Regions from separate parts of the Homo sapiens genome. Here region 2 is linked to region 1. The links come from fine-mapping of genetic effects on gene expression. A gene starts in region 1. The other region holds a variant in brackets. All regions are shown on one strand. Distances are from middle to middle. Region 1 holds the start of VCF1 (VCP nuclear cofactor family member 1). Region 2 overlaps VCF1 (VCP nuclear cofactor family member 1).

The links.
Region 2: its variant is fine-mapped to the expression of VCF1 in blood mononuclear cells (TOPMed, PIP above 0.99).

Annotation. Positions count from the first base shown.
Region 1 is chr17:73,227,428-73,235,763 of GRCh38, forward strand. VCF1 (VCP nuclear cofactor family member 1) reads right to left here and starts at 4,967. Exons shown (of 4, transcript NM_001098832.2): 1 at 4,659-4,967. The coding sequence starts at 4,879. It overlaps MTNAP1 (mitochondrial nucleoid associated protein 1), which reads left to right and starts at 5,006. Exons shown (of 6, transcript NM_001351264.2): 1 at 5,006-5,062; 2 at 5,793-5,898; 3 at 8,049-8,336. The coding sequence starts at 8,056. RefSeq lists enhancers at 1,553-1,602, 3,684-4,460.
Region 2 is chr17:73,208,884-73,217,219 of GRCh38, forward strand. VCF1 (VCP nuclear cofactor family member 1) reads right to left here. Exons shown (of 4, transcript NM_001098832.2): 3 at 3,795-3,857; 4 at 1-885. The coding sequence ends at 646. Among named protein-coding and RNA genes, the nearest start is that of VCF1, 19 kb to the right of the region's middle. The variant AC/A (reference allele first, on the strand shown) is at 3,069.

The DNA of each region.
Region 1 (8,336 bases):
CTGGACACTAAGAGCAAAAATACAAGACAGCAGCAGCGAGGTCAAGCTTAAGTTAGTAAAACTCATTTCTAAAAAGAAGCTTAACAATTTTAAATGTCTGTTGGGACTGAAACAAGAACAGGAAGAGGTTAATGACTAAGCTTTCAACCTCTAACCTAATTAAGGTTTTCTTCTTTTTACACTCCCTGAAATTAGGATTCCGAGTTACCTAATTGTACTCCCTTCCATATGACAACATTTGATATAAGAGTGGCTGCCTTTGCCTATTTGCCCTGAAAACCCTTATAAAAGTACCTCTTGGTCACATTCACCTGCTTATTCTGGCAACACTAGCCGGTATTATGATATAACAATTACTTCACTAGATTGTTACTATGAGATGATAGCATAAGCTGCTTAAAATTTCCAGGTTTAAAGAAAAATCACACATCTTTCTTAGGCAAGTGTTCTCGGACATGCAAGAAAGACCAAATTTGCATGTACTCTATTTAAGAATTATGTGCTGTCAAAACGATTTCTGAACCTGTTAGAAAACAGAAATAAATTAAAGGAGGTATAATTTTCAGTCAAATTGCCCGGAACTGTACTGTCCAATACGGTAGCCACTAGCCACATATGGTTATTTACATTTAAATTAACTAAAATTAACCATCCAGTTCCTAGGTCACAGCTGCCCTGTTTCTAGTGCTCAGTGGCCACGTGTAGCTAGTGGCTACTGCACTGACCAGCACAGATAAAGGACATTTCCGTCACTGCAGAACGTTCTCCGGAGCAGCACAGGCTAGAGGTCTGTATGTACATGGCAGCAGCACCTATTACAAAACCCTTGAAGTTTCAGCTTTCTATAGTTAAGAGACAAAAGGCTAGTGTGGACACACAGCTCTTGGAAAGCATGTACATTTGGAGGATATAGTGTCTTCTAAATAATTATACACTTTCTATGAGAGTAGGGTGGCTTACAGTGGCAGGCCTTTAATCCTAAAGGTTTTGAGTTGAGGTTTGAATATTAGAGAAAATAAATGATCACCCTAAGCTCACTTCTCTGTACTCTGCAACATTCTGAATAGGTCTAACTTTAATAATGAGTATGGATCCCAGCTTAAGTTTGGAATAATAAAGAGTGTGTGGTTCTGATAAAGCTTCAACCATCCTGCACTGGGCTATGTAATTTACTTCATTCTAAGACATTTCTGCTCCCCACCTTTCTCTTAGGAGATCAGATCTTAGCTGCACATTACTTTGAAGTAGTTGGAGGTTAAAAAAAAATAGATGAATATCAGGTTTTAATAATCATTAAATGGGTGTGCTTTTATCATAAATTTGAACCAAGAAACTGCTAATTTCATCCTAATATGATCAGGGAATTTGAGTGGGAGTGTTCTGCAGAGGCAAAGCAATGTCTGCTGGGAGGCCAGTCGACACCCAAAGAGAAAGTCATTGAGTAAGTAGCAGCTGCTGGTCCTCACACACCCATTTTATCAGCGTGCCAACAGCTGACTGGGCTTTGGGCTGCTGAGTCACTCTAACCAAACTTAGGAGCCTGATCAAAATTTGCTATCTCCTCATTTATAATGGGGGATAGATCTTTCCAGGGACAAGACTATGAATGTCAAGGAGGTTGCATGGCAGAGGGACTGTAAGAACAAAAAAAGATGAGATGATTTTGTGGATTTCAACTAATCTCTGGGAGAGTCACATGAAATATCCCTGCCTCATAAATTACTTGATCTCTCAAGGCACCAGAATAATCTCTTTGGCCTGTTGGTAGCCTTCTCCTCTGGATGGTACCAGATTAAGAAAGAGTCCTACCTGCTCTTCATTTGCCTTTTTCTAGGCTCTTAGCAGATCTCATCCTTGAAACATTCTTCTTTCAACAATGGTGTTAACAACTGGCAAGATTACAGCTTCATGCTCATCCCTATCAGTTCAATCAATCAGATTACAATTTTTGGCATTAATGCCACAGACCAGGTTATGATTTTAGCAGGCACCCCTATAACTGATTATATTCTTCCCTAACCATCTAGGTGCAGATTACCAGTTAGCATCTGTTACTTCTACAGATGGTTGATTCCATCACGTTGCATTATTTCATTTCTCTCCAACCTTCCTGTCATCTCCTAGAGACTCGGCATAGAAATAATCTTAAGAGTATGGGCTGGGCACGGTGACTCACACCTGTAATCCCAGCACTTTGGGAGGCTGAGGCAGGCAGATCACTTGAGGTCAGGAGTTCGAAACCAGCCTGGCCCACATGGTGAAACCCTGTCTCTACTAAAAATACAAAAGAGTTAGCAGGGCGTGGTGGCGTGTGCCTGTAATCCCAGCTACTTGGGAGGCTGAGGCAGGGGAACTGCTTGAACCCAGGAGGTAGAGGTTGCAGTGTGCCGAGATCGCACCACTGCACTCCAGCCTGGCCGACACAGTGAGACTCCATCTCAAAAAAAAAAAAAAAAAAAAAAAAAAAGAGTATGGAAACTAGTGGTTTTCAAACTTTATTTTAAAAAGTAACAGAACTCTTTCTTTCTTACTGTAAAAAAATTCTCTCTATATAAGAGATAAAGGATCTGTTAAAGTAGGGACTCCCAGTCTGGTGAGGTGGCTCACATCTGTAATCCCAGCACTTTGGGATGCCGAGGCGGGTGGATCCCTTGAGCCCAGGAGTTCAAGACCAGCCTGGGCAATATAGTGAAACCCCACCTCTACCAAAAATACACAGATTAGCTGGGTGTGGTAGCTCACACCTGTGCTCCAGCTACTCAGGAGGCTGACGTGGGAGGATCACCTGAGCCTGGGAGGTTGAGGCTGCAGTGAGGCATGATGGGGCCACTGCACTCCAGCCTGGTCGACAGAGTGAGACTCTGTCAATCAATCAGTCAATCAATCAACCAATCAATCAATCAATAAGCAGGGACTCCCTCACTACACACTCACCTCTCTGCGGCTATCCAATCTACTGTGGGAGAGCCTGAAAACCCTTTTTTTTTTTTAGATGGAAGTTTCGCTCTTGTTGCTCAGGCTTGAGTGCAGTGATCTCCGCTCACTGCAACCTCCGCCTTCCAGGTTCAAGCGATTCTCCTGCCTTAGCCTCCCAAGTAGCTGGGATGAAGGTGCCCACCACCAGGCCCAACTAATTTTTTTGTATTTTTAGTAGAGACAGAGTTTCACCATGTTGGCCAGAGTGATCTCCAACTCCTGACCTCAGGTGATCCGCCCGCCTTGACTTCCCAAAGTGCTGGGATTACAGGCGTGAGCCACCGCACCCAGCCGAAAAACCACCGTCTTAGACCATCCTAGAGCTGGCAGAGCTGGCCCATCATACTCCATTAAACACTGGCAGGAAAAGCCTGTCCAAATCAAATAACTTCTTTAAAACATGTTGAGATTATTTGTGTACAAGATAAAAGGAATCTACTGCCAGTATAAATGCATTCAGATTAGTTATGTACAGTAGAATTTTTATTTGTAGGAAATATTTAGATTTTTTTTCAGATATGTGAGACACCCCAAGAGAATATCGTAAGTATAAACTGGGTTTGGGAAAGAATAATATGGCAGTCGGGTCAGATTCACTGTATCTAAAGATCTTGCTCCTAATTCCGATGGCATGTCTGTAATTGGGCCCCCAATTTCAAATTTAGTCCACTCTTCTTTTCTATACAAGGAGAGGCTTTATGCTCCACCTGCTACATGACCCAAATCAATAATCCAATGCAGCAGCTTGGGGAACCCTAGGTTTTCACTATGGGACCAAATAAACTCAGAATACTTTTGAGAACTTCAATCACATGAAATAATTATTTCAGAGAAGGATCCTTGTGGAAAGACCGTAACAGGAAGAGCATTCTGAGGTAACCTTTCCCAACTTTCTCCTCCACACATTCTTGCAGAGGAAATTAAGAGAGAGAAAAAAATTAAGAAATCCCAACTTAGTCCGGACTCTAGTAGTACATGTCAAGCACAGAACCCCTAATTTAAGACCCGCGTCCCGAGGCCAGGCTCCCTCGGGAAGGTAGCGAGTGCATCGCGATAAAATCTTTCCTCCCGCCTTCGGAGTCAAACGGCCCCGCAATCCAAACAGTTTAGAATCCAGCTTGTTCTTAATGCCACAGTCAAGAGAAGATCCATAACCCGCCTTGGTCATCTGCCCTTCTGTGTTCACAACCGTTCAGGGCACAAGTTCTTCGGTCTAACCGAATCTTTCCCTGCTGCGGGGTTAAGCCCAACCTTTCTTTCTGACCTTGGGGAGCCGGCAGCTCCCCGCCCGGTGCCCTCACAAAAGCCTTTGGGGGCTCCCTCTCCAAGATGAGACGTTTATCCCATCCCCCCACCCTCCTAAATTTAGGACAGGAAAGCTTTAGGGCCACCGTCTCTCTTCCGGGACCGATCACACTTCGTTCCAAATAGGAAAAGACAGGGGGGAAAAAAGATGGAGGGGCGGGAGACCTGGACCCCGGAGAGTCACCTTCCAGCTACCCACAGGAACCAAGCATCCGATCACTCGCGCATCCCTCTCCCCTCCTCCCCCGGCCCGCAGTGCACCCCACAGGGAGCCCCGCCGGGTCCACTCTTGCTCCGACCCCCATTTCGCGCGCCCCCTCGGCTCTATCTCCCAGATCCTCAGGCGACGAATGGAAAGGGGGTCCCTTCCCTCTCACCTGGGACGGAGGCGCTCGCTCATGGCAGCTGGCGGATGGAAGCTACGCGGCGCCGCTCCGCGAAGAGAGGGAACAGAGGGGGTTGTGTTTCGGCGGCCGCCACGCCCACCCCCTCGGGCCTTGGCTCTCGCAGCCGCTCGGGTGGACGCAGCCGGTGGCGAGTACCCCTCAGTCGGACCCGTACCACCACTACTTCCGGCGTCTGCTCCGCGCCCCCCCATGTCGCTGCCGCCGTGGTACCGCCCTCTCGCGGCTGCGCAGTGGCACCATCCCAACCGCACCGACTGGTAACCCCGCCCACGGGAAGAGGCGGGCTCGGAGCGGGAGGAGCGACTAGGAGCTTCTGGGAGAAAGGACCTCCCCTGGGGTGGCAGAAGCGCTCGCCTGTTCACAGCCAACGGAGGGTACGGTATAAAAGTCAAGCCAGGTTTCAAATAAATTCAATTATGTCATAATAATATCATACAAGTATTTGAGTTGAATCCGTGTAACATATTTTAAAACAGGCGGACCTATCCGGCAGTGGTGCAGACGGCCTGACGAGGTTCCTTGGCCGGGGGTTGGGCAGGGGCCTGGGGGGCTTCCCTGGGGGGCTTGTCGCCGGGGCCGCCTGGGCTTTCAGGTCTTCCGAGGTGAGGACGGTGCTCTGTGGGGAGCTTGCAAGGGCGGGTTTGTTTTCCGCGGCCCACGTTCTAAGTCTGGGGGAGACTCTCCTGAGCGGAGAGGGTAGGGAATCGGGTGCCGGGGCCGGCGGAGGGTCTTCCTGGAACCGCAGGAGGAAATCCTCGGTGGGGCTGCGGGAACGGCTGTCCCTGACCCAGGAGCTGCCGGGCCGACCCCATCCACTCCGCAGAATCAGAACAGCTGGCAGAATCAGAACAGCTTTCAGGGAAAGGAAGGGTGCGGGGAGGTGGGCAGGCTGGTAACGCAGCGGGAGGAGGGAAAGGCGGCTGGAGAGCGCCGGAGGTGAGGGTGAGGATTAGTGGAACTATTGAGGTCCTCCTTGAGCCCGGAGGCTGGGGAGGTCTTAACTCTCTGCTTTCCGGAACCTGTGTTTCTATTTGGTTCAGTATCGTGCCGCGTTTACTCACTGTGCATGCTGCCAAGTCACCTGTCTGATCGTGTCCTACACAGGCTGACATTCACGTTTCATTCTGCCACACTCGGGAACGGTGATCGGGGAAGCATGGGGATCCGGGAGAAGCACCCACAAAACTAGCATCCTCCTGGAGGAGCTCGGGTAAGAAAACAGACACCCACGTATAGACGTTATCGTGGGAATGTACCGGGATCTTTCAAGTAGGGTTGAGTGTGAGGTGGAGTGGAGGCAGAAACGTCTAGCAGGTGTCAAGCCCTTCCTAACGTTGTTAGCCGAAGGTCCATGGACTGGCTTCATTTGTGTGTATTATTGTAAACAAACAGTCTGTGGCTTTCATCCTGTTAGTGTGTACCTCCAAAGAAAGAAAGAATGATGGCTCACGCCTGTAATCCCAGCAGGCTGGGCGCGGTGGCTCACGCCTGTAGTCCCAGCACTTTGGGAGGCCGAGGCGGGTGGATCACCTGAGGTCAGGAGTTCAAGACCAGCCTGGCCAACATGGTGAAACCCCGTCTCTACTAAAAATACTAAAATTAGCTGGGCGTGGTGGCGCACGCCCTTAATCCCAGTAATCCCAGCCACGCGGGAGGCTGAGGCAGGAGAACCGTTTGAACCTGGGAGGCTGAGGTTGCTGTGAGCCGAGATCGCGCCACTGCACTCCAGCCTGAGTGATAGAGCAAGACTCCATCTCAAAAAAAAAAAGACCAAACAACAACAAAGTAAAAATGATTACTGTAATCTGTTGGCAGAAAACAGTTTTGTTTTGAAGGACTTCGTACAGGATAAGGTGGGTTGGTTGCTTTATTGAATGGATTGGTGAAGATTGTGTCTATTTTGTAAGTGGTTTCAGTCACCCTTTTTAATCTCTTTGGTAGTCAGAAGATATTATCAGTTGTAGTACTGAATAATATTTAAACGTTTATATCTAAAGAATTAAGTGAACAAATATTGTATGCCAGGCTCAGTGCTAGGTTTTTACATACAGCTGTGTGCAGGATAGATATGTTTCCTGCCCTCTGGAACTTTATAGAAAGAATAAGAGATGTAGAAAGGAAATAACTTTCAACTAAACATTGGAATTAAACATTTTCTTTTCTGGACTCTAAAGAATAACAGGTACAAATATACATGGTATAAATGTTTTTTTTTTAATTTTTTACATCGTATATGTTTAACAAAGATGTCAAACTAATTTGCCAGTAATCTGTTGTACTAGAAACTATAAGTAGGCCAGGCGTGGTGTCTCACGCCTGTAATCCCAGCACACTGGAAGGCCGAAGGCGGGCAGATCACGAAGTCAGGAGATTGAGACCATCCTGGCCAACATGGTGAAACCCCGTCTCTACTAAAAATACAAAAATTAGCCTGGCGTGGTGGCGCATGCCTGTAGTCCCAGCTCCTCGGGATGCTGAGGCAGGACAATAGCTTGAACCTGGGAAATGGAGGTTTCAGTGAGCCGACACTGCACTCCGGCCTGGTGACAGAGTGAGACTCTGTCTCAAAAAAAAAAAAAAAAAAGTATAAGTGAAAAACAGGACTGTGTCCTTGGCCATGTATATATTTGTGCATTATGCATACATTTTATGTATATCTGTGTGTGTGTGTGTGTGTATATGCATATTACTAAATGTTAGTAGAGCTTCATTTCTCATTCTTTGATTGTGGTAATTCTAATATTTTCTTCTTACACCCTAGTGCATATTCTATTTATCACTTTGGAAACCTCTGCTGTAATCAGTAACCTTTGGCTGGGCGTGGGCGTGGTAGCTCGCGCCTGTAATCTCAGCACTTTAGGGGGCTGAGGTGGGTGGATTGCCAGAGCTCAGGAGTTCGAGACCAGTCTGGGTAACACGGACACGGTGAAACCCCGTCTTTACTAAAATACAAAAAATTAGTCAGGCGTGGTGGCATGCCCCTGTAGTCCCAACTACTTGGGAGGCTGAGACGAGAATTGCTTGAACCTGGGAGGCGGAGTTTGCAGTGAGCAGATATTGTGCCACTGCACTCCAGCCTGGGTGACAGAGTGAGACTCTGTTTCCAAAATAAATAAATAAATAAATAACCTTTGGTTCCTGGCCTAAGTTTTTTATTCTTTACCATTCTGTCCTTGAATAACGTGTTTAAGGGTTTTTAAACAATTTTTTATACTCATATAATGACTAGTTGACTTGCTGTAACCGTAAGTAGCAAACATCTAGCTTGTTCCAAATGAATTTAAAAGATACAACACATAAGTAAAATATTGGTATGTACAAACTATGTGCTTCTCATAATCTCACATTTACCTTTTTCAGGAATAGGATGAGTGATAATCCACCCAGAATGGAAGTGTGTCCTTACTGTAAGAAGCCATTTAAACGATTAAAATCCCACTTGCCATACTGTAAGATGATAGGACCAACCATACCTACTGATCAAAAAGTTTATCAGTCCAAGCCAGCTACACTCCCACGTGCTAAAAAGATGAAAGGACCAATCAAAGATTTAATTAAAGCTAAAGGGAAAGAGTTAGAGACAGAGAATGAAGAAAGAAATTCTAAGTTGGTGGTGGACAAACCAGAACAGACAGTGAAGACCTTTCC
Region 2 (8,336 bases), 19 kb before region 1:
AAAAGACATTCTCTCTGGAAATACAAATATATAACAAAGAGTAGAGACTATTATTAGGGAGTGTGCTTCACTGACAGTCTGAATTGGATCTGATTGTTCTCCTGTTACACAGGAGAGAGTACTTTCAATAGAACATCTACATACTGAGAGGTAGTATGGCAGTTAATTTCAGTGCAAGACTGAATCAAGCTTCCTATATTTTGGAAAAAAACTTATGTTTTTTCATGGAAACTAGATACTCTTTACTAGTTTATTGAATAAAAAAAATTGAAGATCCCGCATTTTTAAAAGGCCCTTTACATAAAGTAGAGTTTCTAGTTGACAGATTTGGAAATCAGTCTGAATGGGACATACTATGGATTCAACACACAGAATGAGTTTTCCTCAAACCACTACCTTGACATAGATTTGATACCCTCCCTCAAAAGAATCCTATAAAAAATTGCTTCAAAGCCCCTTTGAAATTGCAATAGTGCAGCAAAACCACAAGTAAACAACTGCCTGTTAACCTGTTATTTCAAATATAGACTGAAAAGCCAACAGGCATTTTTCGTGTGCAATTTTTCTTTTAAAACAAGTTGTAAGTTGAAATATCAAATCTGCACAGCGCTGTCCCTTCACAGAAGGCAAGAAACTGCCGGCACATCATGTCAGAGGCCGCCCTCGGTGCTGTAGGCTGTGGAAGTGGGCCTCCCTCAGGGTCTGGTTGATGTGGAAGTAGAGGCCTTGGCACAGCGCGGACTGCTCGGGCACGGGCTGAGGCGTGTTAGGGCTGGATCCGGCCATGGTCTGGCTCAAGCTGCCTTCCGGCCCGCTGGCCCTGTCCGGGCTATTGATGCTGCTGCTGCTGCTGCTGCTGCTCCCACCACTGTCACTGCCTGAAGACTGGAAGGAAGAAGAAAGAAACAGGGTCACAATAAGGCTGTTTTGTTTAAGAGCTTTACTGTGGTTTCATGTACAGCGCTCTATTAAGAGTACCTTTCCAGTTCAGCTTGAGGATGAAGACATATACTGGGCTTTGGAATTGATAAAGTACGCTCTCCTAAAACGTTTCATCCTCTCCTCACAGCCACCCTGTCAGGCTGAGCAGGGTTTATTGTCCTTAATACACAGCTCTAGGAGGATGGGTCCAGTCCAGGTTCAAGCACGGGCTGCCTAACTCCAAATCCTTTCAACTATATCCTAATTCTTTTGCACATATTCTATACCTGCTTTTCCCATTCATTTCAATAATTTCCAACCAAAGAAGGCAGTTCTCAGCCTCCAAGGGAATGTATGAGTCATTGGGACAGAGTATAAAAAAGGTGACAAATAAGATGGCTTCTGGGTATAAGCGAAGATAAAAACTAAAAGCCTATGCCAATTTTGTGATCATCATAGACACAAAATGGTATTCTGTAACTGCAGGACACAGACCCTGAAAGGACTTTAATAGACTTCTGGTCAAGTTATCTTATGTTGGCATTATTGCAGTTCATATGTACATGTGTGTACATGAGCGTGCCTAACTTTTTCTTTAATGTAACTAACATGACTTGGTGTTTTAGTCATCTTGGAGAGGCTACTCGGAGATCCCTGATAAGAGTCACTTTCATTCTGCAGTTCATGTTTTAAAAAAAAAAAAAAAAAAGTCACTTTCAGAAATTCCCGCCTTCCACCACTAGGACTCTCAAAGGGGAGGGTGACACGAAGGACCCATTTCAGAATTATGGTATTTTACAATTTTTTTTGGAGACAAGGTCTCACTCTGTTACGCAGGCTCGAGTGCAGTGGATCAAGCTCACTGCAGCCTCAATCTCCTGGGCTCAAGCAATTGTTCCACCTCAGCTTCCTAAGCAGCTGGTACTACAAGCGTACGCCACCATGCCTCGTTATTTTTTTTTTTTTTTTTTTTTTAGTAGAGACAAGATCTCGCTATGTTGCTCAGGCTGGTCTCCAACTCCTGAGCTCAAGCAATCCTCCTGCCTTGGCCTCTGAAAGTGCCAGGCAGGAAAGATTACAGGCATGAGCCACCATGCCCAGCCTTATTTTACAATTTTACTATTGCATTTCTAATAAATGACAACCCTGATAACTGAATTGGCAGTACCTTTCTGTGTTTACAGTGCAATACAATATTGTATTCAGCACATGAGAAAGAATTCTAGTAATTAATATCTAGCATATAATTGTTTTTTAAAACTTAGCCGTTTAATACATCCACATTTATGTTCCCTTAGGCAAAGACATTGGTTCTGAAATGTCTGCTTACAACTAGGTAAAGTCTACACATAAGAAAAAAAAGACTGGAGGCCAGGTGCAGTGCCTCACACTTGTAATCCCAGCACTTTGGTTGGCTGAGGCAGGTGGACTGCTTGAGTGCAGGAGTTCGAGACCTGGCCAACATGGCAAAACCCCAGCCTGGCCAACATGGCAAAACCCCCATCTCCATTAAAAATACAAAAAAATTGGCCGGGTGCAGTGGCTCATGCCTCAGGAGTTTTGAGACCAGCCTAGCCAACATAGTGAAACCCCGTATCAATTAAAAATACAAAAATTAGCCGGGCATGGTGGCAGGCGGCTGTAATCCCAGCTACTAGGGAGGCCGAGGCAGGAGATCGCTTGAACCTGGGGGGTGGAGGTTGCAGTGAGCCGAGATCGCGCCATTGCACCCAGCCTGGGCAACAAGAGCAAGACTTCATCTCAAAAAAAAAAAAGGCCAGGCGCGGTGGCTCATGCCTGTAATCCCAGCACTTTGGGAGCCCGAGGCAGGTGGATCACGAGGTCAAGAGGTCGAGACCATCCTGGCCAACAAGGTGAAACCCCATCTCCACTAAAAACACAAAAATTAGCTGGGCATGGTGGTGTGTGCCTGTGGTCCCAGCTACTAGGGAGGCTGAGGCAAGAGAATCGCTTGAACCCGGGAGGTGAAGGTTGCAGTGAGCCGAGATCACGCCACTGCCCTCCAGCCTAGTGACAGAGTAAGACTCCATCTCAAAAACAAAACAAAACAAAAAAATTATCTGGGCGTGGTGGCTCGCGCCTATAGTCCCAGCTACTCAGGAAGCTGAGGTGGGGGAATCACTTGA[AC/A]CTCGGAGGTCGAGGTGGCAGTGAGCCAAGATTGCACCACCGCACTCCAGCCTACGCAATCGGAATGAGACTGTCTCAAAAAAAATAAAGACTGGAAAGAAAGAACGAAATCACAGTAGTTATATTAGGATGGAAAGATTATAGCTGCTTGACTTTTTCTACACTTCAACTTTTTTGCAATGTGGTTATTATGTATTTTTATTATAAAAATGTATAAATTAAACAAAATGCTGTTTACAGATATATATTTTAAAGTGATTCTTAAAATCCTAGTTCTATCCCTTTTTTGACCAAAAATTACATCCAATAATATGCATATAGATAACTTATCTGAAACAATGAAAACAAGCAATGTTCACAAAGCTGCCATCATTAACAAGACTCAAACCAAGACTTGTGATGGTGCCGAGGCCATTGGAGCTATGGTCACATACCCCAATACCTACAGGTAGCAGGGGACAACCCCTCTTTCTAGAATAAAAAAATAAAAAAATAAAAACCTCATGAAAGGATGATAATGGGCCGGGCTGATGAAGTCAGATAGCAGGATTTGCAGCCAGCTGCAACTGTATTTACTTAGAGGCTTAAGAAGTCAAAGTCAAAAACAAAAATTGTATTCTACAAAGGCGTCTCCTAACCTAGTATAACAATGTAGAATGGCCACTTGCACCTTGCGAATCATGAATATTTAACAAACAGGTCACTACACTCAATTAGAAACCCACCGCGCAGAACGCTTTGTTTCCTCTTAGTCTGTTTTCTTTACTGTTTCTCATTACAGGTACTGTCTGAAAATCAAGGCAAGAACTACAATCAGTTTCTAGTAAGTCAAGTTTTCATCTCAAATTATATCTATTTCGTACTATAATAGCACAAGGGTGATGCTACTCTAAGAAAAGGCAAAAGTTCTTTAAACAGATTAGGGAAGATTTCTGTACATAATTTTTTTTTATTTTTTATTTTTTTTAGGGTTAGGTAGATTTGCAATTTCCAGTTCATTTAAAAAATCTTGGCTGGGCGCGGTGGTTCACGCCTGTAATGCCAGCATTTTGGGAGGCTGAGATGGGCAGATCATGAGGTCAAGAGATCGAGACCTTCCTGGCCAACATGGTGAAACCCCGTCTCTACTAAAAATACAAAAATTAGCTGGGCGTGGTGGTGTGTGCCTGTAGTCCCAGCTGCTTGGGAGGCTGAGGCAGGAGAATCACTTGAACCCAGGAGGCGGAGGTTGCAGTGAGCTGAGATCACGCCACTGCACTCCAGCCTGGCAACAAAGCAAGACTGTCTCAAAAGAAAAAAAAAAAAGTGTTTACTGGGCCTTGTTTATAATGGCTAAAAATTGGAAACAACCTAAATGTCTAATAGAGAATTGGTTTAATTATATTACATCCATTAATATACATATATGATGAAATTCTATTCAGCCATTAGCAATGATCATAGAGACATACATATACTAACATCGAAGTCTTTGGCATCATTTTTTACATCATTTCAGTTCATACTAAGCAGTATATATAGTATATCAGTTGATTCTTAAAATGTTTTTCTCAAGTGTATTCATACATATATTTATATACACCAAAAACAATCTGGAAGGATATATATGACAAAATATTTACGATTTGGATCTTCTATTTTATTTTAAAATTTATTTTCTCAAGTGTCTATCAAAAAACATTTCTTTTGAGGAAGAAACTGATAATGAGTAAGTGAACTAAAGAATGCTACCATGGGCCAGGCATGGTGGCTCACACCTGTAATCCCAGCACTTTGGGAGGCTGAGGCAGGCAGATCACTTGAGGCCAGGAGTTCGAGACCAGCCTGGCCAACATGGCGAAACCGCGTCTCTACTAAAAATACAAAAAGTAGCCGGGCGTGGTGGCGCATCCCTGTAGTCCCAGCTTCTCAGGAGGCTGAGACAGCAGAATCGCTTGAACCTGGGAGGCAGAGGTTGTACTGAGCCGAGATGGCACCACTGCACTCCAGCCTGGGTGACAAAGTGAGACTCTGTTTCAAAAGAAAAAAAAAGAATGCTACTAGGAAACCAAGTAAGGTCTTCAATTACATTTAACTTCAAAATGGAGACTGAAAAGTATTGATACTGCCAATATGATTTTGAGAAGATTGTTTCACCTTAACTACCTCAGAACTTCTAAAGCTGCTTCAGTTGTATTAACTTGCATTGAGCAGACCAATGATAGTGTTAAACTACTGAGGCTTTGGTTTCTATTTTCTGACAATTCAGACCAGTTTTCTCACTACTGTGGAGGCTTAGGGAGTGTCACACAATCTATAGATGGACCAGGATTTTTCAAATTGAGAGTGAAACCAGCATCAAATTGGTGGGTTACAACCAGCATTAAAAAAAAAAAAAAAGGACAACAGAGTGCAACATAAGGATATTGTTCTGTGAAGCTTTCTTTCAATTATTCACAAATATATTTGGTATGTACTGGGTTACAAAATAAAGCATTTCTATGGAACAGGGTCAAAAAATTTTTTGAAGTTACTGTAGTTGATCTTAACACTGTCAGCCACCAAAGTCATCTGCTTTATGGGATAAAGGAAAGACCATTCTTCACTTTTAACCCAAAAGGCATAAAACTAAATTTGAAGTCTGTATTAGTGCCTTAAGATATATACAGAAGTAAAACATTTTTGTCTCCTAAAGTAAACATCTTGAAACAGGAAAAAATCCTATTTCCCTCACTTAGTTGAAGCTTTTTAATATCAGATTGCTTGAGGGCAAAAGCCAATACTTGATGATGCACGGCTTTGGAAATGGAAACTGCTATCTTAGTAGAGAAGTGTTTACCTTGTCACATTTGTTCTCGAAAAGACACCAAATTCTTTTACCAAAAGAGAAACAAGGGTCCAAAGACTTTGGGACTGAGAAGGACCATCAAATAGGAATCCCACTCTTATGATCCTGATTCCTTACAGACTCATCAAACAGTTTAACCAAATCAACGGTTACAAAGCTCATTTTCTTTTCTCTGAATTGTCCATTTAGGCTTAGTGCTGACATGACATCTGACCAGGCTATTTTCATGACACAATCCAAAGAGAATAAAGCTGCGTGTGATCTGTGAAATAAAAACCCCTTGCAGGTCTGTGAACACAAGCAAGATAAATTTATGAAGGCTCTGGCCAAGAATCTCTCTCAACAATATACAAAGAGTCCTGTCTTGAAGATCTGTGTGAAAAAGGATTCTAGGTTAGTTTCGGTAATAATAAAACCTACCACTGTATCCTTATAACCGCAGACATCTGGGTAAGACCCAGAAGAGAACTGCCATGATACAATCTATTTTGGAATTACCTATGGGCTTTTTATTTCATTTTTTGAAACAAGGTCTTGCTCTGTCACTCAGGCTGGAGCAGTGGCATGATTACAACTCACTGAAGCCTTGACCTCCCATGCTCAAACGATCCTCCTGCCTCAGCCTCTTGAGCAGCTGGGACTACAGGCGCATGCCACCATGCCCAGCTATTTTTTGTAGAGACGAGGTCTCACTATGTTGCCCAGGCTGGTCTTGAACTCCTGGGCTCAAGATATCCTCCTGCCTCAGCCCCACAAAGTGCTAGGATTACAAGTGTAAGCCACTGCACCTGGCCACTAGGGGCTTTTTAAAGTGTAAATGCCAGGGCCCCACCTCAGCACCATGCTGGCAAAAGGAAGGTGCAGCTTGTTCTCACATCCAACCACTGGGCAAAGAAATGTTTGTGTGCTTACTATGTACAAGGCGTTCCACTAGGGCTGCTGAAGCATTCAGTAAATATTTACTGAGCTGAATCAAGAAAATGGTGGCACCATACCCATTGGTAACAACAGTTCACAGCTACTGTGGTGATGGGAATCCAGCAATGGATGCTGACTGAGTACTAGGAGAGGATCCTTAACATGAATGGTGTCTCAGCTGGGCCCAGGAGGATAAGGAAGAATTTTCACAGGCAGGGTATGACCAATGGGAACAAGAGCAAACTCAGAAAAGCAAGGTGTGGTGTGGGTGGGCCCTTGACAGGAGTGAGTGAGAGGGAAACTGCACAAGAGGTGATGGCTAGATTATCAAGAGCCATGAGGGCTGCAGGAACAGGTGGGTCCTGAGCATGGAAGACTGGCTCAGGTCTATACTTACGAGTGGGGATCCTAGGAATCTGTGGGAGATGAATGAGGTTAAGGATCTGAAAGCAGAGCCCTACTGGGAGCTTTCCTAATACAACAAGCAGGAAGGCAGGCCCAGGAGGACTGTGGAAATGACAAGGAAGGAGAACACGCACCACCCCCGAGGAGGACAGAAAGAACTCCGGAAGGAGAGGAAGAAGACATAGGGTACTCGAGCATCAGGACAGTGCTGGGCAGACAGCAGGTGTTTGGGAACTGTTTGCTGAATGGAAAGACCATTGGTGAGCCTGGCAAAAAGTTTGAATAGAGTCAAGGAGGAAGCCAGGATCCAGAGAGTAAGGGAGGGAAGGCCGATGAGAAAGTCCCAGCAGTGGCTGCAGGCAACTGAAGGTGACTGGCGGGAGGGAGAGGGAGAAGGCACACAGGAAGCTGAGGGGAAAACAAGGCAGAGAGGAGGTGAGTGGGGAAAAGAGCCCACTAGCAGGCCAGGGAAAGAAACAGTGGGTAAAAGGAATCTGAAGAGCCGAAAAGAAGGGAGAAATACTAGAAAAAGCTTTCAGGAGTCTTGAGAGAATATAGAGCAAAAAGGCAGAAGGACACACTACTCTCTTTGGCAGAAGGGCTAGATATAACTAAATTGTGAAGCAGAGGACGGGGAAGTTGAAGTTCATTTTCTTAGTCCAAAGGGCTCAAATGATACATCAAAGGGCACAGAAGCTCTGGTCTCTCAGCCAGGCCTGCCTTTCATTTTATTTTTCCAGTGTGCAAAGTCAGTTTAAGAGACAACTCACTTATACCCATGGCAGAAACTAAACAACTCCAAACACCATTTCTACTAATAACCTTAAGAAAGCACCCCCACCTCAGACAGAAATATTAATCACTAAGCCATTCCACTTCATAAAAAGAGAGCTATGTGTATATTATCTAGAACCAAATGCTTTCTCTTCTTAATTTGAAAAGCAGGGCTGGGCCCAGTGGCTCATGCCTGTAATCTCAACACTTTGGGAGGCCAAGGCGGGTGGATCAGTTGAGGCCAGGAGTTCGAGACCAGCCTGGCCAACATGGTGAAACCTCATCTCTACTAAAAATACAAAAAACCAAAACAAAACAAAACAAAAATTAGCCAGCCATAATG